2 linked regions of the Homo sapiens genome follow. The protein of the gene in region 1 interacts with the protein of each later gene in a biochemical or structural test. Each region holds a gene or a part of one and is shown in the gene's direction. Other genes may lie near its edges.

Region 1 (2,639 bases):
GCTTGAGAAGGAATAGAAGGGAAATGAAATGGGGGGAGGGAGTGGTAGGAGATGGAGGCTTTGAAAGAAAATAACCAGATTTAGAAACATGGGTATAGAAAGCATCCTCCAGTACTTCTGTAACAATTTATCAAGACCTACAGGAAGTCAGTTTTGGATTTGCTCCTCCGAGATTTGCGAGCCAGAGGAAAATACTTAGACTATCAGGTTGGAAAGTTCACACTTGGACCAGGAAAAGACCAAGCAGTTGCTATAGTCTCCTGGATTGTGACTAATCTGGAGGAAGCAAGTCCCTGTATCCTTGGCAAAGCTTGAAAGGCAGGCAAATGTCTTCTCTGTGTTTTCTGACAGGTGGTTGGGTGGTGGGGGTTGGTCTCTGTACCTCCTGTTCTTTACCTTGCTTACCAAGCCCTTCCACCGACTCACTCCTGCCTCCCCAGCTAAAAATTGGCTGTGTTGCTTTTACCACAGTTACCAAGGTCTGAGTTTTATAAAATCCAGGATCACATCTGACCTCACCTGGTAGATATCTAGGCCAATAAAGTCTAAAGGGCTAAAAAGAAGGTACCTCTCCATCCTGTCTCCTCGAGGCCAGGCAGCACATGTGCAGTTAAGAGGCCTCCTGGATCCATTGTCCTCCTGTTGCTTTTCGTTCTAAGTGATCCAAACTCTATTGCTGATAGGGAATAAAAGCAGGGCAGGCTAGTAGTGGGCAAGTGCTTTGATGGAGCGTATCTCCAAGCAGGGCCCAAGTTTAGGAGGAGGAAGACCTGATACAATGAATGAACAGTGCGTCCTCCCAACCCAACCAAGAAGTGTAATTGTGTTCCGTCTTTAACCCTGGCATGGAATGGGGAGGGAAGAGGCATGGACATTTATTACATAGTGCACATTATCTACATTCTCTGCATGTGACCCAGATGTCAGCCCTTCCGCTTCCTGCGAAGGTTACCTCTAATGCACGTTGCCCCAGGCCCTGCTGAGCTAGTTCCTCACCGCAGCTACTTAACTCACCATGAATTCCTAGAACCCTCAGCCTCTGAGAGTGCTGGGATCTGGCGGGAGAACAGGCAGTACTTCCCTCACTAACCTACCCGCACGCCATACCATCATTGTGCAAAGCTGCCTCATGCTGGAAGGTCTGGTTTACGTAAAAGTGACAAGTTGGAATTGAGCGTCCGACTCTCGGGTACCTGCCCCAGGCATTTCTCATCAGCCCCATTTCCCACACAGCTCTCTCCTAGGCGCAGCCCTCCTTCACCACCACCACCCCCACCCCAATCACCTTTAGGTATTTTCTCCCCTAAAGCCTCACCTGTTGGCATTTTACATCTTTTTAAGACCTTATTTTGTATTTTAAATGTATGAGAAAAATTATGGAGGATGATGCAAGATGAGTGAGTCCATAATGGTAATAATTGGACACTAAAAACAATGAAAACTTGTCTCAAGTATTTGTGTTGAAATCTCAATTAACTGGGCGACTGCTCCCGTTCCATTTTATTCTGTAAAATATGTGGCATCCTTTGTGTTGAGGCGGCATTTACTAAACACCCCCAAGGTGCAAGGCTGCAAGAGAATCGAGCGCCGCAAGGCGAGCTTATCTTCCACACCTGGTACAGTGCCCAGGACAGAGAAGGTGTTTAGCAAGTTTCTGCTGAATGGAAGAGTGAGCGAGAAGGGAAAGTGCATCTAAAAAGCACAGGGAACCTACAAAATATTTGGGAAAGGGTTTCATCAGTTCGGGTGAAATCTTGAACGTGCAAAGCACCATGGGGGTGGCTGGACAGGCTTGTTGGAGTCGTATAATGCAATGAATAAAAACTTACGGCTGCCTTAAATGCAAATGTCAAGCCCTTAAATAAAATTTAACAAAGTCTACCGTGTCACAAATTCTTTGCTTTTCTGCTCCTCCTCAATATCAGAGATTTTATCAATCCACAATAAAGTACAGTTGATCTCATTCACAGATTACATATCTGTAAACTGGCTTCACTGCCAAACTTCATTTGTAACCACTTTAAGGTCCTTGGACACACAGAATGATGACAAACTCAAGTTGCCTGACACACATCCCTAGCTGCAGTGGAACAAGGTGACACTTACCCCGCCTTTTCATTTCAGCCTCATCCTGTAAACAAGCATCCTGTTCACATGTTTACTTCGTGCTACAGAAATTCTGCTGTTTAAAAAGGCCCTCAAGCTTTGTGCAGTGGCCAAAATGCAGTTTATCCAAGGCACAATCATTGCCAATTAACATGGCCCCCAAGCAGAATGCTGTTCCTCAGCACAGGAGGGCTAAGACATGCCTTGTGGAAAACACATGTGTCAGATCAGCTGTCTTCAGGCCTGGGCCATGAGCTCAGTGTTAATGATCAGCAATATATATTAAATAAGGTGTCTTTAAGTATAAACACATAAAACAAGGTTATGTATGATTTTTGTGACCAGCAGCTCATGGGAACCTAACCTTGTATTTCCCCTTGGCAAAATGTTTCAGTGTTTGCCTCAACTTTGTAGTATATAACCTCCATGAATAATGGGAATCAGCTGTCTTACCATTTTTGAAGTCATAAACATTATAGAAAGACCAGCCTGGGCAACATAAGGAGACCTTGTCTCTACAAAAAATAAGAAAT
Region 2 (3,013 bases), on another chromosome or scaffold:
GAGTCCCAAATGTCCTAGCCCTGGGGCACCTGGGGATGAACTGGCTGGGAGCTGACTTGGTAAAGCCCATTTCCGAGGATTTTAGGGAGACCTAGGTGGGGCAGACACTAGAAGTGTCCAGCCTCCAAGCCCAAGAGATGTGGCCGGCAGGGCTGGGCAGGTCCTTGCTGGCTCAGCCTGCTCTTTGCTCCTTCATGGGACCCCAGTGGATCCTGCAGTTCTGCTCTTGGCTGGAACCACGCCAGCTTCGCTGGAGCTGGACTGAGCCGCCTTTTACATTATTGGACTCTCTCGGGTTGAGAGCTGCCCAGGACTCCTGCAGTTTCACCACCCTTGTTCCTTTGACTCTTGACTCATCATTCATGACCGTTAACGTGGTTCCATTTGTATGGACTTCTTCTTTCTTCAGAGCATTTCAGTATCCTGTTACCTCCCCATGCAGAACAAAGAATACTCCACTTTTGATAGATGGGGTTACCAGGATTCAGGCTACATGGCCTGAGGCAAGGTCACAACATGAGTGACAGAATGTGTCCTGGAAGCCAGGCATCCTCTGGGGTGTATTTGGGGCGCTCAACAAGGCTTGATCGAGCTTTGGGGGTAGATCTAGCTATTCCATGGGGATTCTTTTCAGAATTGCTGTTTTCGGTAACTAATTCCATGACCAGGTCCATGGCATTGGATGACATTGCGCTACACTGTTGCTCACCCGGGTCACCCGTCCTCACAGGTTGGATGGCAAGCATGTTGTGTTCGGTCACGTCAAAGAGGGCATGGACGTCGTGAAGAAAATAGAATCTTTCGGCTCTAAGAGTGGGAGGACATCCAAGAAGATTGTCATCACAGACTGTGGCCAGTTGAGCTAATCTGTGGCCAGGGTGCTGGCATGGTGGCAGCTGCAAATGTCCATGCACCCAGGTGGCCGCGTTGGGCTGTCAGCCAAGGTGCCTGAAACGATACGTGTGCCCACTCCACTGTCACAGTGTGCCTGAGGAAGGCTGCTAGGGATGTTAGACCTCGGCCAGGACCCACCACATTGCTTCCTAATACCCACCCTTCCTCACGACCTCATTTCTGGGCATCTTTGTGGACATGATGTCACCCACCCCTTGTCAAGCATTGCCTGTGATTGCCCAGCCCAGATTCATCTGTGCCTTGGACATGGTGATGGTGATGGGTTGCCATCCAAGTGAAAGTCTTTTCCTTGACCAAGGGGGACAGTCAGTTTTGCAAAAGGACTCTAATACCTGTTTAATATTGTCTTCCTAATTGGGATAATTTAATTAACAAGATTGACTAGAAGTGAAACTGCAACACTAACTTCCCCGTGCTGTGGTGTGACCTGAGTTGGTGACACAGGCCACAGACCCCAGAGCTTGGCTTTTGAAACACAACTCAGGGCTTTTGTGAAGGTTCCCCCGCTGAGATCTTTCCTCCTGGTTACTGTGAAGCCTGTTGGTTTGCTGCTGTCGTTTTTGAGGAGGGCCCATGGGGGTAGGAGCAGTTGAACCTGGGAACAAACCTCACTTGAGCTGTGCCTAGACAATGTGAATTCCTGTGTTGCTAACAGAAGTGGCCTGTAAGCTCCTGTGCTCCGGAGGGAAGCATTTCCTGGTAGGCTTTGATTTTTCTGTGTGTTAAAGAAATTCAATCTACTCATGATGTGTTATGCATAAAACATTTCTGGAACATGGATTTGTGTTCACCTTAAATGTGAAAATAAATCCTATTTTCTATGGAAGACTGGTACCTGGTTTCTGGAAGAGGGGTCTGTGACTTGGAGCTGATCTTTACTGAGCTCGCCGTGGCAGATGCCATGCTCAGGACGTTCATGTGGATGGTTTCATGTCATCGTGCTGGCAACTTGTCCTCCCTGCCTTAGAGATGAGGCTCAGACAAACGACCTTAGCACCCATAGCCTATGCCATGAGCACTGGCTCCACCCTGAATCCCAGCTCCTCCCCTTAGTGACCCCAAGTCTGTTTCCCTCAGCTGCATAAGGAGGCGATATAGTTTGAATATTTGTCCCCAGCCAAATCTCATGTTGAACTGTAATCCCCAGTGCTGGAGGTGGGGCCTGCTACGAGGTGTTTGGATCATGGGGACGGGTATTTCATGGCTTGGTGCTGTTTTCTTGATGGTGAATTATTGCAAGATACGGTCATTTAAAATTGTGTGGCACCTCCCCCTGCCCCCTTCTTGCTCCTGCTTTCACCATGTGACATGCCTGATCCCCCTTCACCTTTTGCCATGGTCATAAGCTTCCTGAGGCCTCCCTGGAAGCTGAGCAGATGCCAGCACCATGCTTCCTGTACATCCTGCAGAACCATAAGCCAATTAAACCTTTTTAATAATAAATTACTCAGTCTCAAGTATTTTTTTATAGCAATACAAGAATCCTAACACGGGTTAACAATAAGGCCCACCTCGTAGGGTGGTGATCCACGTGAAGTGCATAACGCAGTGTCTGGCGCACCTTCCTAAGCACTCTGGAGTGACAAGGATGATGACCTTTCCCCTGTCAGGGTCTTAGGAAGGAGGAGGGATGCCAGAGCAAAGGAGCCTCCATCATCTGAGGTTAGGAGTGGACTTCCTAGGATAAGCCAGTTCCATTTGGAATTGACTTCTAGGTGTTTCCAAATTCACAGGGAAGGCAGGATTGGAGGTAAGAGCTTCCCTAGGTAGACAGGGCTGTGGTGTGGCCCGGCAGTTGAGTGGTCAGGCAGGCAGTTCTCAGAGGAAATTTGGGCCCTTTTGAGGGCATCTAACAGAATTATTTCTCACTGGGGTTCCCTGAGTGAGGTTATGTGTAGTCTTAGGTTAATGGAGTCACTCTGAGGTCATGGTGACTGGGGTCGGGTCATTTGGAGTCATGGAGAGTTCCCATGAAGTCAGTTTCAGTAGGACAAGTAGTCTTAAAACAATTATCAAGAGCGTTAAGAGTCCTCAAAGCAGACAAGGAGGACACAAGGAGCATGGGCCCCTGAACCCCATTTGCAGTCATAGATGCCCT

Evidence for each region.
Region 2: the proteins of SLC25A4 (region 1) and PPIF form a complex in vitro, tested with the Homo sapiens proteins (one study listed by BioGRID).

What each region holds. Positions count from the first base shown.
Region 1 is NC_000004.12:185,148,504-185,151,142, forward strand, and holds the end of SLC25A4 (ADP/ATP translocase 1), read left to right. Parts: 3' UTR 1-1,879; downstream 1,880-2,639. UniProt on the Homo sapiens protein: ADP:ATP antiporter that mediates import of ADP into the mitochondrial matrix for ATP synthesis, and export of ATP out to fuel the cell.
Region 2 is NC_000010.11:79,352,977-79,355,989, forward strand, and holds the end of PPIF (peptidyl-prolyl cis-trans isomerase F, mitochondrial precursor), read left to right. Parts: intron 1-668; coding exon of another isoform or gene 669-730; coding exon 731-866; 3' UTR 867-2,358; downstream 2,359-3,013. UniProt on the Homo sapiens protein: PPIase that catalyzes the cis-trans isomerization of proline imidic peptide bonds in oligopeptides and may therefore assist protein folding. Involved in regulation of the mitochondrial permeability transition pore (mPTP).